Linked DNA regions of Homo sapiens. The protein of the gene in region 3 interacts with the protein of the main gene of each other region in a pairwise test. Each region holds a gene or a part of one and is shown on either strand. Other genes may lie near its edges.

Region 1 (7,000 bases), on a different chromosome or scaffold from region 3:
TTGAGAGTTAGGGCCTGCTTATTTATCTTCATTTTAAAGTTAGAAACAAGGTTTTGTGTGCTTAAAAAATCCTTTACATTGCATTTCTAAGTTTTACATGAGGTACATTTAAAAGTAGTATAGTGCCTGCCCATAGTAGATGCTCAATAAATGTTGTTTCGTTTATCTTTATTTTTGTTTCTCCCTCCCATCTGGTGTACCTGCCTTCTGAACCTCATTATTTGTAAGAGGGCGAATGGGGTCAAGGAGTATCATTAGATAGTTTTGGTGTCTTGCAGGTGCATCCTTTCCTTCCTTCATATAGAGCTTGTAAATAAATCTAAGACAGTGAATGGTGACATCTGCTAATGGTCTCAGCTACCTCACCTGTGGTAAAAAGTGGTTGTTCCTTGCTGCATCTGACTGTATTCTTCTGGTTCAGGAGTTTCAGAAGGAGCTGAGCCAGTGGAGGAAAGACCCAAGTGGAAGCAAGAAGAAGCCCAAATACTCTTACAAGACCGTGGAAGAGTTGAAGGCCAAGGGCAGGATTAGCAAGAAGCTCACTGCTCCCCAGAAGGAACTTTCTCAAGTCAAGGTACAGGGGCCCTTGGACACCTGGTACAGGATCCACACCCCAGAAATAATCACTGAACATGTTCGAGGGTTTTTTGGATCTTTTAGCTAGGCTTTTTTTTTTTTTTTTTTTTTTGGTACCTTGCTTTTCTCACTTATTTATAGGAGTGTAATGAATAGGAACATGCTCACATAGTATTAATATCATGTTCCTATTCATTACACTCCCATATTTAGTAATAGTTACCAAGTTCCTTCTCTGCTAGGCACTCTTCACGGCACTACACTGGTAAACCAAATGATGTTCCTGTGTTTCTGGAGCTTACATCAGTGAATTTAATAACATTCTTGTTATTAAAAACTCAGTGCAAAGTGTTTATAATGAGCACGTAATTCCAGAGAGTGGCTGTGCTGTATTATTTGATCCTACCTCCGTTGTTAGACATTTAGCTTTTATCTGGTTTAGTTTGGGTTTTTGGCTGGTTAGTTTGTATATAAAACTTTGTCTTTGTTTCAGACATTTTTTAAGGATAGACATGTACATGTGCAATCACCATGTTGAATACAAAAGTACTTAAGGCATTTAAATACTCAGAAGGTTGTATTAACTCTCTCTGACCAGGAGGGCAGGAGAGAGTCCCCAGGGCTCCTTAGCCAGCATTGAGTATTTTCTTTTTTTAAGATAGATTAAATTTTCAGCCACTGTTACGTCCATGTAGTGTATTAAGTTTTCCATTACTTGGCTGGGGATGGTGGCTCACGCCTGTAATCCCAGCACTTTGGGAGGCCTAGGCGGGCAGATCACAAGGTCAGGAGATCGAGACCGTCCTGTAACATGGTGAAACCCCGTCTCTACTAAAAATACAAAAAATTAGCCGGATGTGATGGTGGGCGCCTGTAGTCCCAGCTACTCGGGAGGCTGAGGCAGGAGAATGGCATTTACTCAGGAGGCGGAGCTTGCAGTGAGCGGAAATCGTGCCACTGCACTCCAGCCTGGGGGACAGAGCGAGACTCCGTCTCAAAAAAAAAAAAAAAAAAAAAAAGTTTTCCGTTACTTTTCCAAGTAGTCAAAGAACAGTGGTGACAGTTGCCTGTTGTCATTTGCTGTAGGATATGTAGTGTGTCATAGACCTCAAAGAAAGCCTTTAGTGGGGTTCTCAAACGTGCTGTTATCTGGACGACCTGATAAGAAATAAGAGTGTCTAGGTGCCTCCCAGGAATTGAGTCTAGACTGAACCTCAGGACTCTTTTTTTTTTTTTCCTCCAGTGAGTCTAAAGCTGGTGGTTCATGGATCACACTCTTACTTAAAAAGTGGTGATGAATCATTCTGTTTCAGAAGTGTAGTCCGTATTCACATTTCCTGTTTTCCTAAAATATTGGAATTAGCTCATTGTCTAGGTTGCCTTTGTTCAGTTAGCCTTTTGTATATTTTATTTTGTTTTAAAATTAAAAGGCTGGGCGCAGTGGCTCATGCCTGTAATCCCAGCATTTTGGGAGGCTGAGGCAGGCGGATCACAAGGTCAGGAGATTGAGACCTTCCTGGCTAACACAGTGAAACCCCATCCCTACTAAAAATACAAAAAATTAGCCAAGTGTAGTGACGGGCGCCTGTAGTCCCAGCTACTTGGGAGGCTGAGGCAGGAGAATGGCTTAAACCCAGGAGGCGGAGCTTGCAGTGAGCTGAGATCGTGCCACTGCATTCCAGCCTGGGCAACAGAGCGAGATTCTGTCTCAAAATAAATAAATAAATTAAATTTAAAAAAACTTTGTTATTACACAGCAGTGTGTAGTACATTTTAGAAAATTAGGAAATAGGCAAAAATGTAGAAAATATTTTCCATCCTTCCAAGATTACCAAATGTTAACATCTTGTTATACATCCTAGATCTTTTTCTATGCTTATGTGCATTTTTTAAATCAAAATGTGATATTCTGATTGTATGTTACCTTCTTTGATCAGTACAGCTTCTACCTTTCCATTAAAATAAATTTTCACATCTACTAATACTCAGTCCCTATTTAAATTTCATGTTTCCCTAAAAAGTCTTCTCCATCTGGCTTGTTCACAGTGATCCAACCTAGAACTGCTTGCTGCATCTGATTTTGTCCCTGGAGTCTCCTTTAGGCTAGGACAGTATGGTTCCCACTTTACAACACTGCCCTTCTCCAGCTCTGTTGAATAATGTGGTTTCTACACACTTCCCCTGTCATGGGGCCTTCCCCTGGGCTTAGCTGTGTGTTTAACAGGGCTGCAGCGGTGTTAACCTTCATCCCTCTATGTTTTCCAAGGTCATAGACATGACAGGCCGGGAGCAGAAGGTCTACTACAGCTACAGTCAGATCAGCCACAAGCACAACGTTCCCGATGATGGGCTGCCGCTACAGTCCCAACAGCTGCCACAGTCTGGCAAAGAGGCCAAGGCCCCCGGCTTCGCGCTGCCCGAGCTGGAGCACAACCTGCAGCTGCTCATCGACCTCACGGAGCAGGAGATCATCCAGAATGACCGGCAGCTACAGTATGAGCGGGACATGGTGGTCAACCTCTTCCACGAGCTGGAGAAGATGACCGAGGTCCTGGACCACGAGGAGCGGGTCATCTCGAACCTCAGCAAGGTCCTGGAGATGGTGGAGGAGTGCGAGCGGCGGATGCAGCCCGACTGCAGCAACCCCCTCACCCTGGACGAGTGTGCCCGCATCTTCGAAACCCTGCAGGACAAGTACTATGAGGAGTACAGGATGTCCGACCGTGTGGACCTTGCTGTGGCCATCGTCTATCCACTCATGAAGGAGTACTTCAAGGAGTGGGATCCCCTCAAAGTGAGTTGCTGGGAAAATCAACCTATCCCTGCCTCTCGGTTGGGCTTACCCTTGCTTGATGAGTTGGTTCAATGGGCAGGGAGGGCTGGAGAGCCCGCTGCCCCTCAACTGCTCACCTTTCTCCTCAGGACTGCACTTATGGCACCGAGATCATCTCTAAGTGGAAAAGCCTCCTAGAGAATGACCAGCTCTTGTCCCATGGCGGACAGGACCTCTCAGCAGATGCCTTTCACAGGTACACCACAGAGCAGGGCTCTGTACCCCAGCTCCTTTCTCCTGGGGGGTTGGGAAGGATTGCTGAAGGTGGGGGAAGGCAGCAGTGCTGGCCTTGATTAATTCTCTGCTCATGCTGACAGTGCTTTAGGAATTTAAATTCATTTGGCTATGAATTTTTTTTTTTTAATTTTTTTGAAATGTTTTATTTCCATAGGGTTTGGGGAACAGGTAGTATTTGGTTACATGAGTAAGTTCTTTAGTGGTGATTTGTGAGATTTTGGTGTACCCATCTCCTGAGAAGTATACATTGAATCCAATTTGTAGTCTTTTTTTTTTTTTTTTTTTTGAGATGGAGTCTCACTCTGTCACCAGGCTGGAGTGCAGTGGCGTGATCGCAGCTCACTGCAACCGCCAACTGCCTGGTTCAAGCGATTCTCCTGCCTCAGCCTCCCAAGTAGCTGGGATCACAGGCACACGCCACCACGCCCAGCTAATTTTTGTATTTTTAGTAGAGACAGGGTTTCACCATGTTGGCCAGAATGATCTCAATCTCCTGACCTCGTGATCCACCCGCCTTGGCCTCCAAAAAAATGCTGGGATTCCAGGCGTGAGCCACCGTGCCTGGTTCAATTTGTAGTCTTTTATCCCTCACCCCCTTCCCATCCTTTCCCCGAGTCCCCAAAGTCCATTGTGTCATTCTTATGCCTTTGCATCCTCATAACTTAGCTTCCACTTATAAGTGAGAACATAAGATGTTTGGTTTTCCATTCTTGAGTTACTTCACTTAGAATAATAGTCTCCAATTCCAACCAACTTGCTGCGAATGCCATTATTTCATTCCTTTTTATGGCTGAGTCATATTCCATTATATTTATACCACAGTTTCTTTATCCACTTGTTGATTGGTGGGCATTTGGGTTGGTTCCACATATTTGCAACTGCGAATTGTGCTGCTGTAAATTTGTGTGAGCAAGTATCTTTCTCGTATATGACTTTTTTTTTTTTTTTTTTTTGAGATGAAGTCTTGCTTTGTCGCCAGGCTGGAGTGCAGTGGCACGATCTCGGCTCACTGCAACCTCTGCCTCCCGGGTTCAAGCGATTCTCCTGCCTCAGCCTCTCGAGTAGCTGGGACTACAGGCGCTCGCCACCATGCCCAGCTAATTTTTGTATTTTTAGTAGAGACAGGGTTTCACCATGTTGGCCAGGATGGTCTCGATCTCTTGACCTCGTGATCCGCCTGCCTTGGCCTCCCAGAGTGCTGGAATTACAGGCGTGAGCCTCCGTGCCCAGCCATGACTTCTTTTCCTCTGGGTAGATACCCAGTAGTGGGATTGCTGGATCAAATGGTAGTTGTACTTTTAGTTCTCTAAGGAATCTCCACACTGTTTTCCATAGTGGTTGTACAATTACATTTGGCCATGAATTCAGCTGACACTTGTCAAATGTCTGTTGCGTATCATGCTTGTGCTAGGTGCTGGGCTTACCCTAGGAGCACAGCAGACAGCCTCTGTCTACAGTACAGCAAAAAAAGCAGATGGGAAGTAAGGTAGTGAACAAATAAAGGCAGGATGCACACCAGGTACAGCGATAGAGAACTGCAGGAGCAACCTACTTGGAACGGGGGTTGGCACAGAGGTCTTAGGGGAGGTGACGTTGAAATTGTGATAAGAGGGTGAGAGGCATCAGCTCATGAATAGAAGCCTATAGGTGGGAAAGCACTTGATACCTGGGAAGAGGCCCTTGTGACCCTAAAGCAGCTCTGCCAGGTGGATGGGCACTACCTAGGAGACTGAGGCCTCAGATTGAGAGGAGAGTCAAGAGAACAAGGAAGAGGCAGGCTCAGTCTGGCCAGTATGGTGACTGGCCTGATGGTTTCCTCTGATTGGATTTCCATGCTGTTGCATTTTTATTCCTGATTCTAGAGAGGCAGGTGGTGGTGGTGTACTTTGAAACCAGTCAGTGTAATTAACCAGCCTGTCCTCTGCCTTTCTCCCATAGGTTGATATGGGAAGTCTGGATGCCTTTTGTTCGAAATATTGTCACCCAGTGGCAGCCAAGGAACTGTGACCCGATGGTGGACTTTTTGGATAGTTGGGTGCACATTATTCCTGTGTGGATCTTAGATAACATACTGGACCAACTCATCTTCCCCAAGCTGCAAAAGGAGGTGGGATGAGAGTCATGGGAAACAGTCGTCATCACTAATCACAGGGACTTGTTCAGTCTGTGGCTTCATTATCTCAGTGCTGTTAAAACGCCTGGAATTAACGGAATTTGTCAACACAACTATTGACCTATAGTGTTAATTCCAGCCTTTTTCTCAGCACTTTTTCCCCCAAGCCACCCTCAGGAGGGAATTCATTTTCTTGATTTTGTCACTAAAATTAGAATTGTGCTGTTTCTGAGATGTAATCAAATGGATGGGCATATTTGTTTGGCAATGTACAAAGGACTGTGGGCCTCAGAGAGCACAGGGCCTCCTCCAGGGGCAGCTCTTGCCTTTAGCCACACAGGGGTGTTATGTGACTGCCCCACAGGCGACATGAACTGTTTCTCCTCCCCACTTCGCAGGTGGAAAACTGGAACCCGCTCACAGACACTGTTCCCATCCACTCTTGGATCCACCCATGGCTGCCCCTTATGCAGGCACGGCTGGAGCCACTCTATTCCCCCATCCGTAGTAAGCTGTCCAGCGCCCTGCAGAAGTGGCACCCCAGCGACTCCTCTGCCAAGCTCATCCTCCAGCCCTGGAAGGATGTCTTCACTCCTGGCTCCTGGGAAGCATTCATGGTCAAAAACATAGTGCCCAAGCTGGGTAAGGATAAGGGGAAATGCATTCCAAGCCCAGCAGCTTTGGTGCCCTGGTTTCTGTGGTTAGCAGTGATGATTTAAAGCATCGCCTTTATGTTCATGAAAGTGCTTAGTACACAATATTCCTTGCTGTGAAAAAGGTAACATTTTGTTCAGAGGCTGAACATAAATGTAACTTGGGTCCTTTCCGCTGTTTATTTACAACAGTCACTAATAGTCGACAGTGACAATATCGGACTCTGTGCCTTGTGGTTTTCCCGATTGGTTTTGGCTTCTGGTAATAGGACAGCCATTGGAGTTCTAAAATTTTTGTGGTATTTTACTCTAAATTATTAGGGAGTTATTTCCAGGTTAGCAAAAAAAATATATATACATACACACACACACACACACATATATGTATATATATACACACATGCATATACATGTATATATACACATGTATATACACATATATGTATATACACACATATATATGTATATATGTATACACACACACACATATATATATGTGTATATATATACACATATATATTTTAAGAATCGCTATGTCGGGAGCTTAAATTTGACCTTTAAAAGCAGATTACAGCCTGAGCAACATGG
Region 2 (7,822 bases), on a different chromosome or scaffold from region 3:
TGGTTCTAGGGTAAGAAAGTTTTGTGGTAGAAATATCAAATAGCTAAATCCAGAATATGTACTCTCACATTACTCAATAAACGTACCATGGATTCAAAGGATGAAACAGCCACTTATGCTTTCTTGTTTTTTCAATCTTTTAGGGTCCGAAAATGTCTTTTTCTTATTTACCACCTGTGCCGCTTGGTTTCAAGTCAAAGTTTTTCTATTCAAAGGCAATGCAGCTGAAGCTTAGAGCTCTGCCCAGAAAAATTCATTTCTGGGATGTGGTGTTTCAAATCTTTATACAGTTTCCCAAATACAAATTTCCCTATTTTCTCTGTATACTCTGGGTTCATTTTTGCTTTCCTTCACCTGATTTTGCTTTTATCTGGTGGCCTTAATACCCAGATCCTTGCACCAGCATACCTGAGTTCTTCTTTGAACCTGGTGTCTCCAAAAGGCTTCCCCAGTTTTTTGTAATACTGCCCTCCTCGTCACAAACATAGAGTTCCTAATCTTCCATTCAGGATCACAACCTCAATGTATATGCCAGGTATATAATTAGCATAATAAGTCTTACCTTAAAAAATACATCTGCATTTTAAAGTTGGTTCCTCCTAGAGCCTCAGCAAGCTGAACACCCCCAAATCTACCATCATCCTCATGGAAGGATGCTGTTAACCAAGGACATGCACGTAGGTGAAGACTAAGCAGCATGTAATACAAATGTGCCTTTATCATCATATATCCCACGACCCTCACCTCCGCTGACACCATCTATGGCTCCTCACTAATTGGATGAATTCCCAAACTCTCAAGCACAGTTTAAAACCAGTCAGACCTTTAGCTTCTGTTGTCTGGCTCCACTCTTGGTTTCCTCTATTCCACAAGCAAAAACTCTCAGCTCCAGTCAGGTTTTTCTTCTCATTATTCTAATCAGGCGTTTCTCATCCCTGCGCCATGAGCTTGGTCTTGCCTTCTTCCCTTATTCGAACCTTACCCAATCTCTGCAGCTTGATTCAAATCTCACATCCTCTCTGAAGTCTTCTTTACCCATTTCAGCTCACCCTCTTCCAACTGCCCACTCATATGTCATGTACTGTATGAGTCCCACCTTTCACCCTCAGTCACAATTTATCTTGTACCATTACTTCTCTTCAGAACCTTTTTTAAATCCAAAAAGTAGAGAGGAATATAGAATTCTTTCACCAAGTTCTATTACCCTGAAATAAACAGTCTTAAATACTGGAATGTGTCCTTTTCTATGCATTTGCAATCGTATATACACATGTATACACATGTGCACACATAGAGTTGATATAAGCCCATATATTTTATTTACCTTAGACAAGCAGAAGGTAGTATGAGATAGCAGAGAACACAGGCAGATCTGGTTGTTAATTTTTTTTTTTTTTTTTTTGAGACAGAGTCTTGCTTTTGTTGCCCAGGCGGGAGTGCAGTGGTGCGATCTCGGCTCACTTGCAACCTCTGCCTCCCAGGTTCAAGCAATCCTCCTGCCTCAGCTTCCGGAGTAGCTGGGATTACAGGGACCCACCACCACTCCTGGCTCATTTTTGCATTTTTAGTAGGATGGAGTTTCACCATATGGGTCAGGCTGGTCTCGAACTCCCGACCTCACGTGATCTGCCCACCTCGGCCTCCCAAAGTGCTGGGATTACAGGCATGAACCATAGTGCCAGGCCATCTGTGAATTTTAACGCAGTGATCTTGGGCAAGTTAGTTGATTTTTCTAAGCCTCAAGCTCATATATGAAATGAGGTCAACAACTGCCTTGCCAACTTGTTGAGAATATTAAATGAGATAATGCATACAAAGTGTTTTTGCACAAAACCTGGCATATAAACATGCAAATTAATCTTTTAATAAGATAATGTACAATTTTGGTACAATGGTAGTTTAATTAATAGTTGCTACTTTCCCTTAGGGCCAAGACTGTAATCTTTTTCTATTGCTCAAAGAACAAGATGAGTGGGTGAAAACATGCACACAAACCAATAAAACGGCTGTTTCATCAGGTTTGCAGAAACACTGAAAGATATACGTCTTCAGATATATTCTCTCCAATCAAATCCTAACTAGAAGCCCAGGACTACTGAGGTACAAAAGAAGGACGGGATTCAAATGAGCGAAGTAACTTCCCGGGTTATAGCTGTAAAGCTAATATAGGAACAGAGTGGAGTTAGCATAGCAAAGGTTTTAAGAAAATGGAGTCTGGAGCCAAATTGCCTGTATTTGAATCCTGCCTACACCCCTTACTCGCTCTACGACCTTGGGCAAGTTACTAACTTCATTTTCTTCTTGTATGTTAATTTTAAAAAGGGGCGGGACAGAGAGGTGGGGTGTAGTCTACATAATAATAGTGTCTATCTCATAGAGTTATGAGAAGCAGATAATATTTGTAAAGTGCTTAGAACAGTGCTGGGCTGGCACATAGTAGATGCTATTTATTCTTTTAAAAAATTCGATAGCAGCAAGAGCCTTTATACTATGTGAGTTAGACTAAGAAAGGCTGTGGCATAGTTTAAAACTATCCCTGCTCATTCTTTAAAATAAGTCCACAGTAGAGAATAAGACATCGGAAAATACAAACATTTCTTCATATCCGAATCTATTTGAATCCTAAGATGCAGATACGGAGAGTTCAGAGTGCCATCAGTACAGGGCAGAGAGGTTGAAGAGCTCAGGAACAGACATAGGGTGGGGGAAAGGGGTAGGGGCAACGACGCTGACTTTTGGTTAACAAAGCCCTTCCAGGCTGCGGAGCAACCTCCTCTGCCCTTCACCTGCCCGGCCCATCTCTGGCCAAGAAGACCCTGCCGCCAAATCCCCACACCCAGTCCAGGTCGCAGTGCACAGACTGGCCCTTCCGAAGCCCCTCAGCGGTAGCCCGACTCCGAAGCTCACCGAGGCATCCGTGAGAGGAGATGCCACCTAGCGCAGATCACATCTGCTCTGAATCCTTGACAACCGCAGCCCAAAGAATGATAAACTACAAAGGCCGGAAATGCGTCACCGCGGCCCGCTCTCCGCGAAACAGCGGTTCCGGCTGTGTTCCTTCTAGGAAGGCCGGAGGTTTCCACACCTCTGTGGTCGTCACTCTGAATCCCGTCTGTAGTCTTAAGTGAGATACTAGGTGACACATTGTCTTCCACGCGGCAATATAATAACGGCCAACATAGTGTTTTAACACGTATTAATTCATTACCCCGCATAACAACCCTGTGAGTTAGGTACAATTATCTCCATTTAACAGGTGAGGAAACTGAAGCACATTTCTACATTTATTAGTTGCCATTTCCTGCAAAGAATACCCTTTCTTTTCCCTGCCGTCTCATTTTATCACGATGAACTCATGGATTCCTTTACAAATAATTACTGTTATTATTATGTTGATGCTCAAATTATTTAAAATTTGGTCAGTTGGAGCCCTTTCACACTGCTCCCTCTCTTTTCTTTTTTTGACAAAGTCTCCAGGCTGGAGTGCAGTGGATGCGATCTCAGCTCACTGCAACCTCCGCATTCCGGGTTCAAGTGATCCTCCTGTCTCGGCCTCCTGAGTATCTGGGATTACAAGAACACACCACTATGCCTTAGTGAGGCTGGTCTTGAACTCCTGTCCCTCAAGTGATCCGCTCCCTCGGCCTCCGAAAGGGCTGGGATTACAGAAGTGAGCCACCGCACCCGGCCACAAACAGGTTTCTATGTCCTTTGATAAGTTCCCAACAGTTTTTGTGCACTTCACTTTCTCACAAAAGATATTTCAGTCCCATTTTATACTATTCCTACCCTAAACCTAGAATCACCATTGCTTCATGAAGCTACAGTACATCAGTGAAAAATGGTATATAGAAACCAAGATCTGGATTTCGGGCAATGAATAACCTCATTGCTACTGTGTCTGGCATTGGTTCCTGCCAGTCTACTGTGTCCAGAATTGGCTCCTTCCAGTGGGTTCCTGCTCTGACTTCAAGAATGAAGCCGCGGATACTCACGGTGAGCATTACAGTTCTTAAAGATGGTGTGTCTGGACTTTGTTCCTTCTGCTGTTCAGATGCGTCCAGAGTTTCTTCCTTCCGGTGGGTTCGTGGTCTCACTTGACTTCAGGAGTGAGGTCGTAAACCTTTGCAGTGAGTGTTACAACTCCTAAGGGTGGCGTGCCTGCAGTTGCTTCTTCCTTCTGGTGGGTTCGTGGTCTCGCTGACTTAAGGACTGAAGCTGCAGACCATCGTAGTGAGCATTACAATGCTTAAAAGTAGTGCAGACCCAAAAACTGAAAAGTGGTAAGGTTTTATTGTGAAAAGGGAAAGAACAAAGATCCCACAGCACAAAAATCAATGCTAGCAGGTTGTCACTGCTGACTGGGGCGGGGGTGGTAGCCAGCTTTTATTCCCTTATTCAGCCCCGCCCACATCCTGCTGATTGGCCCATTTTACAGAGTGCTGATTGGTCCATCTTTACAGAGTGCCGCTTGGTGTGTTTACAAACCTTTAGCTAGACACAGAGTGCTGATTGGTGCATTTTTACAGAGTGCTGATTGGTGCATTTACAAATCTTCAGCTAGACACAGAGTGCTGATTGGTGCATTTACAAATCTTCAGCTAGACACAGTGCTGATTGGTGTGTTTACAATCCTTTAGCTAGACAGAAAAGTTCTCCATGTCCCCACCCTAACCGGAAGCCCAGCCAGCTTCACCTCTCACTACTAGGACATATTATTGCCTCTAGGCTCCTTCAGTGTACAAGAGCTAGAATATATGAATATGTTATATATATAATATATTATATATAATACGTATTATATATTATCCTATATATCATATATTATATATTATATATAATACATATTACATATTATCCTATATATTATATATTATATACGGAGGATTTTATATTATATATATGTGTATTATATATAACATATATAATATATTATATACTATATATTATGTACATAATATATATTATATACAGATATAAAATCCTCCATATACATATATAATATATATATGGAGGATTTTATAAGATACTTTCTGTTCAAAAACAACTCCACAGAATTCTTTTACATTTTTCACCGTTGCACATTTGTTTTTTTTCTTTTCACCCACAGTGAAAACTCTGGCTCCCAACAGCATAAATAAATTCACTCAAACAAAATAGTTTCTTATAAACAAAATAGTTTCAAGATTATAATACCAATACATCACTAGCAATAACATATCTACTATGTAGAATTCAAAATTTCTTTGCTTGTTTTGTTTTTGAATTATATCCCATTAAGGGAGTATAGCTGTATAAATACCTTATTTGAATTAATTATTTTCTCTGTGGTTATATTTTAAACGATATATGGTTAGGAGCATTTGTTTCTGTTTATATTCCATTTCAGGGTTTGCTTTCATCCCTTTTTAATTTTTTTGACAATTCAAAACATTTACTTAGTTCAAAATCCACACTATATAAAAAGGTATGTTTAGAGGAGTTCTGCTTCCATCCCCAGTCCCTTTACCACATATACTCATACCCAATTTTCATTATTTATTTATCCTCTCCTTCCTTCCTTCTTCATTCCCTCCTCCCTTCCCTACTTTTTCTCTTTTTTCTTGCAAAAATGAGTATTTATCTTCTGTACCCCATAAGTTATGTTATATACATTCTTTCATGCCTTGCTTTATCATCTAACAGAAAAGCCTAGAAATGTCCTGTTTTTGAAGTAGTCCTCTTTTTTCACACCTGCATAATAACTCATTCTGTGGATGTACCATAATTTTTTTAACCAGTTTCTTGGGGGTGGGTATTTGGATTACTTCCAATATTTTGCTTTAACAAATAATGCTGCAATGAACAATAAGAGAGAGACTTTTGTAGAGGTTGTGTTATTTTGTACTCTCAACAGCAAAGTGTGAGAGTGCCTGTCTTCACACAGCCTCATGATCTGTATGTTTTCAGGCTTTTACATATTGCCAGTATGATAGGTCCTTTGATATTTCTTAAGGAATCACAAACGCAATGCTGAAATCCCTGCTAGAAATGGATTCACAGTGCCAAATTTCAGCAAGGATTATGGAACAATGGGAATTTTCACATATTTTTCATGAGAGTGTACATTGGTGAAACCATTTTGGGGAAACTCTGGCATATCTACTAAAGTTGAATGTATGCGTATTCTGTGACCCAGCCACCAGAAACGCATATGTGCTTGCATCTAAAGACATGTCTTAGAAGCATTTTTTGGTGATTGCTTTAAACTGGAAACAACCCTAATGTCCATTAACAGTAGGATGGGTTTTAAAAAAAAGTTTATTCAGACAACTGAATACTATGTAACAACGAAAATGAATGAACTACAGCTACAAACCACGTTGATAAATTTCACAAACATAATAGTAAAAGGAGCCAGAATAGTGAGTAAAAGAAGACAAAAAACACGACATTTGACCTCTCGTCCCTGAGAGGCGGGTGGTTGTTAGTTCAGGGGGTTATGGGAGGGCTCTGGCATCCGGGATGGAGGCGCGTCGCTTTCTGTGGCTGGCGCTGGATCCACCCTGGGTCTCCAGCCACGGCTGCAGAGAGGGTAGCGCGGTTTCTTAGGCCAGAGTGGAGTGGGACAGGAGGTGCCCAGAGACGACTGTGGTGGCTTGAGACATGGAAGCGCTGCAGCCTTTGAGCCCAGTATCCAGCATTGCAGCCGCCGCGGCGGTCTAAGAGCTCAAACCCTTTCAGGCGCGCGCAGGAGGAGGAGCGGCGGGGGCGGCGGAACAAGACGACCCTCACTTAACGTGGCCGCTGTCGCCGTGGGCATGCTGGGGGCGTCCTACGCTGCCGTTCCCCTTTATCGGCTCTATTGCCAGACTACTGGACTTGGAGGATCAGCAGTTTCAGGTCATGCCTCAGACCAGATTGAAAACATGGTGCCTGTTAAGGATCGAATCATTAAAATTAACTTTGATGCAGATGTGCATGCAAGTCTTCAGTGGAACTTTAGACTTCAGCAAACAGAAATATATGTGGTGCCAGGAGACACTGCACTGGGGTTTTACAGAGCTAAGAATCCTGCTGACAAACCACTAATTGGAATTTCTACATACAATGTTGTTCCATTTGAAGCTGGACAGTATTTCAATAAAATACAGTGCTTCTGTTTTGAAGAACAAAGGCTTAATCCCCAAGAGGAAGTAGATATGCCAGTGTTTTTCTACATTGATCCTGAATTTGCTAAAGACCCAAGAATGATTAATGTTGATCTTATCACTCTTTCTTACACTTTTTTTGAAGCAAAGGAAGGGCACAATTTGCCAGTTCCAGGATATAACTGAAGTCAGCAACTAAGTCTTCCTTCAAAGTTGTGATTTTTGGGAAAATCATGTATCCTATCTTCTCAAAGGAGAAATATTGTACAATAATATGAAGACTTATATTTTAAATAATTATTTTTTCTCAACTAATTTATTTCACTTAAAATTGAGAGAACAAGTTCAGCTTTTATCATAACAAACCCACATGCCTAGCTAGAATATATGAGTGACTATTCAATACCATACTGAAGAGTTTGATAGCATTAAAATAAGCCGCTTTGTTTTTTAAATATGCAGGCATGGGTTCAGCTTAATTCTATAATTCCCTTCCAGATTATTAACTCTTCATACTTATAGCAAAGAATCTGACAATGTTTTTCAAAAATGAATGCTCAGGGTTATTTGTTTCAAGTCATAGGCCAGAACTTCTGACCATGTTTATTATGTCTAAAAGAGTTGGTTGCTATTTTCCTTCATTATAAACAGTCAGTATTTTAAAAGCTCAAAGTAGAAGAGGAGTCACCAAG
Region 3 (7,097 bases):
TGCATGGCAGGGGACATCTCTGACCTGGTCAGGACCCTGGAGGTGGGACAGCTGGTGCTAAGGGAATGTCAGCGCATCAGGGTTGGGGAGAAGCAGTGGGTGGTCCAGGAAACCCCTGAAACAGCTGGCCCTGGGGTCCCCTTTCAAGTGTTTCCAGTTGTGGCAAGGGGTCAAGGAGACCTTGCATTGCAAATCTCTTAGAAAAAACAAACTTAACCAAAAAAAAAAAAAAAGCCAACTGATCCAGAATGGCTTTCAGAAGCCTGGTCACCAGTCTGAGGGTGAGGCGCAGGGTCAGGAAGCCAGGGGCTGGGGGAGCTGGGGGATCCCTGGGGTAGTGGGGACATTTGGCTTTGAACTCAGAGCTGCGCCTTTGGGCTGGCGCGAGGTGGCCAAGGGCTCCTGGGAGGCAGGACAGGTGGGCTGCCTCCGCTCAGCAGGGAACATGCTGCGTGCTTCCGGATCAGGAGGCCGCGTGCTGTGGTGGCAGGCCGCTAAAGGGCGCTCGCTCTCTGGAAGCTGCACCGCCCAGGCCTGAGGGACCCCACGGCTTCCACCCTGGGGGAGGCTGCAGGCCGGAGAAGGGTCACTTGCTGCTGTGCGTCTTGACTTTGGTGGCGTTGATGTCAGCCTTGGTCTTCTGGATCCTGGAGAAGATCTCTTTGAAGAGCGCCTTGTACTCGGGCTGGCTCTGTTCCAGCCGCTTGTCCACGGCCTCCACGTGCTGGCTCAGGCTCTTCTCTCCTGCCTTGACCTCACCCTGGCCCTCCTCACCCCCGCGCAGGTCCCTCCACGAGCTGTCCCGGGAGATGGGGCGCGAGGTCTGCACGCCGGCGTGCCGCACTCCGGCCCCGTGCTGCCGGCACTTGCTCAGCAGCTCCTCGTACTTCTCCAGCAGCGCGTGGTACTGCTCGTCCACCTCCCGCAGGATGGACATGCCCCGCTTGCGCACGCTGTTGGCGTGCAGTGTGAGGTTGCCCGCGTGCCGGCTGGCTGGGTCTTTGGCCACGATGGCGTTGAGCGCAGTGTCGCTGCAGCTCTTGCGCACCACGTGGCCTGGAGAGGCTGCCGGTGAGGAGACCCCGTCCTGGGCGCCCAAGTCGTCCCCGCGGCCGGGCTGGGGATCGTCGGCCTCAGGGGCCTGCGTGAGGGGTGCGAGCAGGGCCTCGGCCAGGTGGTCGTCCGGACCCAGTAGGTAGGTCTTGGCCTGCTTCATCTGCTGCAGCTCCAGCAGCTCGGCCTCCAGCTCCTGCACACGCAGGCGACAGGCCTCCATCTCGCACAGCTGGCGCTCCAGCTCCGAGTACTCCTGCAGCACCGCGGTGTACTCGCGCTCCGCCCGCTCCTTGCGCTGCCGCTCCTGGCTCACCTGGGAGCGCAGCGCCCCCACCAGGGTCTGCAGCCGCTCGTTCTCCTGCTCCAGGGGCCGCGGGCCCAGCTCCAGGGAGGAACTGTGTAGGCGGAAAGCATCCTTGCACCTGGCGGGTAGTGAGAGTCGCAGCGGGGTGGGGGCGGAGGAGAGGGCAGTGGTCACGGGCACGGCCAAGGCCGAGCAGCCCAGCCAGGGCGCTTACATCTCTCTTGTTCTCTGGGCTGAAATTGTTTGCCCCTCTCCGTTGGCTCTCCACCCTCCTCCACCCTTCTCCCCCTGCTCTCTGCCCCCGGAGGCTGACCACTACGGACCGCCTCTGTCAGGTTGCCTGGTTCTCTCCTGAGCTTGGCCCATGAGAGGCACTGGCTAGAGGTCCGAGGGGGGAGCAGAGGCCGTGGGGTGTGTCTTCTTTGGGCTCTCCATGGTTAATGGTGACCAGGCAGCCTTCTCCATACCTTCCAGGTGCCGGTAACCTCCCTTCCCCCTTGCGCTTTGAGGCCTAGGGCTGGTGGCAGCTCCTCTCTGCTGCAACCCTGGGGCACTATAGTGTCCCTGTGGTTTCCCTACCCCCTGCCCACACCTCTTCTTCATTTAACTTCTCCATTACTCTGTGTAAGAGACTGTTTCCTGCCAGGACCCTTATTGAAACACCCACTACATATGACACATGTATTTTTCCATTATTAAGTGGTTGTCTAGTGTTAGATTTAATGGGAACTGAAAAGCACAGTGGGTTACCCCTCCTGGGTTAGCATGCTGGCTGAGCCTCTTACTAAACAGGTGACCTTGGATAAGACACACAACCTCTGGGCTTCAGTTTTATCATCTGGAGAGTAGGCATAATAAAACACCCCCAACAGTGTTGCAATAAGAATTATATCAGCATAGTGGCAGCACACAGCCAGGGCTCAGTAAACGCCAGCTGCTGTGACTGTCATTAGCAACAGGACCAGTCTCTCTGATGGCCTGGATGATGCACCAACTGCACCCTGCTGCCTGCTGCCTCTCCTTCCTCCCATGGCTGGCAATCCCAGAGACACCAAGCAGTGCTCTCACCTACCGGGGGCTGGTGCACAGCTCCTTGAGGCAGGGGAAGGTGTGGATGGTACGCCTGCGTTCCCGCTTCTCCCGGAGCACTCGCAGCTGTTCCAGGCCTCTCAGTTGCTCCACCTGGGCCTGCAGCTCCTCCACCTGAGCCTGGAGGCGCTCAATGGTCTCCGTCAGCCTGGGGGCGGGGTGGTGGACACACAGGGACTTTAAGGGGATGGGGCCAGTTTGCCTCACGGCAGCCCTGGCTCCCTGAAGATGGAGGGACGTTGGGTAGGAGGCAGACAGGTACCCTTGAGCCGCTGTCTGGTCCTGAGGTAGGATGGGGAATTCTATGCATGCCCAAGGACCCGCCCTTCTTTTGTACCTCTCAGGCGAGCTGATCGCTTCTCCTCTGTGCCACCTCAGTTCCTTGTCACTCCTCTATCACTTATTGTCCTGCACTGCCATAAAATATTTACATGCCTGCCTTCTCTTCCAGGCTGTGAGGTATTAGAGGGCAGGACAATGTCTTTGTTTCCCCATCGTTGCATCCCCAGTGTCTAAAGAAGAGCCTGGTGCATAGTTGGTGCTTAAAGCAAGGTTGCGGCCTGAATGTTAAACCACACAAAATCGACAAGGACAAGCTCACTCCCATCCCCGGTTCCTAGGGAGACGTGCACAAGTCACACCCATCAGTCCATGGGCCCCTGTGTACACTCAGCCCTGGGGCTCTCCCTCGCCCGCCCCCCAGCCCTCAGCCGGGCCCTCACCCATGGATCTTCTGCTGGGCAGCCTTACTCTCCAGCACCAGCCTGTGGTTGGTCAGCTCCAGGTCCCGGGCTGTCAGGTCCAGCTGCTCATAGACTTTGGCGTGCTGCTCGTTCACGTGCCGCAGCGTGTCCAGCTGCTTGGTTAGGTACTGGGGGTGGAAGGACATTGAGTAACTTTTTAGAATTGGGCAGGGGCAAATGTCTCTGCCTAGACCCTCCTACTTCTTTTTTTGTCTTTTTTCTTTTCTTTTCTTTTGATACAGAGTCTCACTGTGTTGCCCAGGCTGAAGTGCAGTGGCATGATTTCGGCTTACTGCAACCTCTGCCTCCTGGGTTCAAGTGATTTTCATGCTTCAGCCTCCTGAGTAGCTGGAACTATAGGTGCCTGCCACCATGCCTGGCTAATTTTGGTATTTTTAGTAGAGACAGGGTTTCACTATATTGGCCAGGTTGGTCTTGAACTCCTGACCTCAAGTGATCTGCCTACCTCTGCCTCCCAAAGGGCTGGGATTATAGGCATGCACCACCACGCCAGCCTCTTTTTTTTTTAAATTAATTAATTTATTTTTTTTGAGACGGAGTCTTGCTCTCTCGCCCAGGCTGGAGTGCAGTGGCGCGACATCGGCTCACTGCAAGCTCCACCTCTTGGGTTCACGCCAACCATTCTCCTGCCTCAGCCTCCTGAGTAGCTGGGACTACTGGTGCCCACCACCATGCCTGGCTAATTTTTTGCATTTTTAGTAGAGATGGGGTTTCACCGTGTTAGCCAGGATGGTCTCGATCTCCTGACCTCGTGATCTGCCCGCCTTGGCCTCTCAAAGTGCTAGGATTACAGGTGTGAGCCACTGTGCCCGGCCTTTTTTTTTTTTTTTAACTTCTAAAATCTTTTTTATGCCCGGCGTGATGGCTCACACCTGTAATCTCAGCACTTTGGGAGGCTGAGGCGGGCAGATCACGAGGTCAGGAGATGGAGACCATCCTGGCTAACACAGTGAAACCTCGTCTCTACTAAAAATACAAAAAAAATTAACCGGGTGCGGTGGTGGGCGCCTGTAGTCCCAGCTACTCAGGAGGCTGAGGCAGGAGAATGGCGTGAACCCGGGAGGCAGAGCTGCAGTGAGCCCAGATCGCGCCACTGCACTCCAGCCTGGGTGACAGAGTGAGACTCCATTTCAAAAAAGAAATAAATCTTATTTATTTTATTTATTTATTTTTAAGACAGGGTCTCGCTCTGTTGCCTAGGCTGGAGTGCAGTGGCACAATCACGGCTCACTGCAGCCTCAACCTCCAGGCTCAAGCAATCCTCTCACTTCATCCTCTTGAGTAGCTGGGACCACAGGCTTATGCCACCATAGCCAGCTAATTTTTGTATTTTTTATAGAGACAAGGTTTCGCCATGTTGCCTGGGCTCAAGTATTTCACCCACCTTGGCCTCCCAAAGTGCTGGGATTACAAGCATGAGCCAGCAGCCCCTTCTCCCCTTCTAAGGACAAGTTTGCTTTGATGTATTTGTCTTCAGCTGAGTGGGGCTTAAAAATGGTGGTTCAGGCTGGGCCTGGTGGCTCATGCCTGTAATCCTAGCACTTTAGGACGCTGAGGTGGGAGGATCACTTGAGCTCAGGAGTTAGAGACCAGCCTGGGCAACATGGTGAGACTTGGTGTCTATTTAAAAAAAAAAAAAATCTAGTTGTGCAATAGGGCTGCCTGAGATAGCTGTGCTATCCTTGTACAGGATAGCACAGTTGTGAACTGTACCAGGCTATTGGGCTAAGGCTGTGTCCGATAAGCTGGCACCTTATTCTAAGTTGCATAAAGGCACACACAGGCCAAGGGGCCCTCGAGGGGTGTGGGCAAGCACATGCAGGGCCCTCACCTCGATCTCCTGCACCTGTTCCTCATTGGTGGAGTACATCTGCTGCAGGGACCCCTCCAGCTCCTTGTTCCTCTCCAGCAGAGTCTTCCCCAGCTCCGCAGCTAGGTGCAAGTCTAGGATAGGAGAAACACGAGCATGAGAACAAAGGCAGAGGACGCCCATTCATGTTCCGAGCATCTACTCTAGGTGACCCCAATGTAACCAAGACACTGGGAGCCTCCAGGCCTGGGAGGAGAGGTAAGCCAGGAGCTAAGCCTTTGCACTGTTATTTCTGCCTGGAATGTTCTTTTTGTGTGTGTCTGTGTGTGTGTGTGTGTGTGTGTGTGTGCAAGATGTAATAAAAAACAAACAAAAATAGGAATGGTTGCTTTCAACATTTTCCAGGTTGTGAAAGTTTTGCCACGATTCTCAGGGGTGTGGTTCTAAGCTGCATCAGTGGAACAAATACAAAATGCTGTCCTCCTCCTAGGCTGGAAGGCAGTGCACCTTCTCCTCTTAACAGCCAGACTAGCGGGTGAGGAGTCAGTGCTGTGCCCAGGCCAAGCTGGAGTGTCCGCATGGCTTCTTCTCTGACCAGTGGGGATTCCATCTACCTTGAGGCATGCTGGCTGGGCCCTGTTTCCACACCAGCGCATGGTGAGACAGCGTAGCTTATCAACAGGCTGCTGGGCCTTAATACTGACAGTGAGTGTGGCGGATCACAGCCAGGAAGGGACTAACACAGATGCCCTCCCAGCCCCACTGCTGGCCTAATTTTAGAATACCACGGAAAAAAGCTTTGATGAAGACAACAGGAAGTCAACACAGCAGAGAGTGGTGTGGACAACCCAGAAGCCAGCCTCACGCACGGAATATTCTTTCCTGATACTTCCAGGACTTGTTCCCTCTTCTCCTTCAAGTCTGTGCCTGTCAACTTCTCTAGATCTTTCCCCAATCACTTGATTCAAAGTCACACTGTTCCCTGCCCTGCAGTCTCTCCCCCGCTTCATCTTTCTCCTTAGCACTTAGCACCATCTAATTTCCCAAGCAAGTTACTCCTTTATCTTTTTCAGCTCCCCCAACTAACTGTGAGCTCATGGGGCAGTTTTTTTTTTCTTTTAAGGGATGGGACCCAGGCTGGGGTGCAGTGAGTATTCACAGGTGTGATCATATGTGCTGCAGCCTTGAACTCCTGGGCTCAACGATCTTCCTCCCTCAGCCTCCCAGGGCAACATAGTGAGACCTCATCTCTATTAAAAAAAAAAGAAAGGTGGTGCAATACGGCTGCCTGGGATAGGATCCCTTGAGCCCAGGAACTCAAGGCTACAGTGTATATGATCATGCCTGTGAATAGGCGTGGGACTATAATATCGGTTGCTGGGACTACAGGAATAGTACAATGTTTTTTTTTTGAGACGGAGTTTTGCTCTTTTTGCTCAGGCTGGAGTGCAGTGGCGCGATCTTGGCTCACTGCAACCTCCGCCTCCCAGGTTCACGCTAACCATTCTCCTGCCTCAGCCTCCCAGGTAGCTGAGACTACAGGCGCCCGCCACCATGCCTGGCTAATTTTTTTTTATTTTTAGTAGAGACGGGGTTTCACCGTGTTAGCCAGGATGGTCTCAATCTCCTGACCTCGTGATCCACCCGCCTCGGCCTCCCAAAGTGCTGGGATTACAGGCGTGAGCCACCGTGCCCGGTACTTTTTTTTTTTTTTTTTTAACTTCTAAAATCTTTTTTATGCCGGGATTACAGGCACCCACTACCACGCCCGGCTAATTTTTTGTATTTTTAGTAGAGAGGGGGTCTCACCATGTCGGCCAGGCTGGTCTTGAACTCCTGATCTCAGGCCTCCCAAAATGCTGGGATTACAGGCATAAGCCACCACACCTGGGCTAAAATTCTTAAATTTTTTTTGTAGAGACAGGGTCTTGTTATATTGCCCAGGCTAGTATTGAACTCCTGGCCTCAAGCGACCCTCCTACCTTGGCCTCAAAATGCTGGTATTACAGGCGTGAGCCACCGCACCTGGCAGGGCAGGGATTTTTATGTTTTGCTCATGAATATCCCCAGGACC

What was found.
Region 1: the proteins of CDR2L (region 3) and TFIP11 interact in binary tests that used the Homo sapiens proteins (3 or more experiments, as listed by UniProt).
Region 2: the proteins of CDR2L (region 3) and ZSCAN23 interact in binary tests that used the Homo sapiens proteins (3 or more experiments, as listed by UniProt).

What each region holds. Positions count from the first base shown.
Region 1 is NC_000022.11:26,495,474-26,502,473, reverse strand, and holds part of TFIP11 (tuftelin-interacting protein 11), read left to right. Parts: intron 1-421; coding exon 422-574; intron 575-2,842; coding exon 2,843-3,370; intron 3,371-3,498; coding exon 3,499-3,605; intron 3,606-5,584; coding exon 5,585-5,753; intron 5,754-6,157; coding exon 6,158-6,401; intron 6,402-7,000. UniProt on the Homo sapiens protein: Involved in pre-mRNA splicing, specifically in spliceosome disassembly during late-stage splicing events. Intron turnover seems to proceed through reactions in two lariat-intron associated complexes termed Intron Large (IL) and Intron Small (IS).
Region 2 is NC_000006.12:28,440,492-28,448,313, forward strand, and holds the start of ZSCAN23 (zinc finger and SCAN domain-containing protein 23), read right to left. Parts: upstream 3,001-7,822; 5' UTR 2,908-3,000; exon of another isoform or gene 1-2,907. UniProt on the Homo sapiens protein: May be involved in transcriptional regulation.
Region 3 is NC_000017.11:74,997,564-75,004,660, reverse strand, and holds part of CDR2L (cerebellar degeneration-related protein 2-like), read right to left. Parts: intron 5,158-7,097; coding exon 5,045-5,157; intron 3,321-5,044; coding exon 3,172-3,320; intron 2,598-3,171; coding exon 2,433-2,597; intron 1,479-2,432; coding exon 587-1,478; 3' UTR 1-586.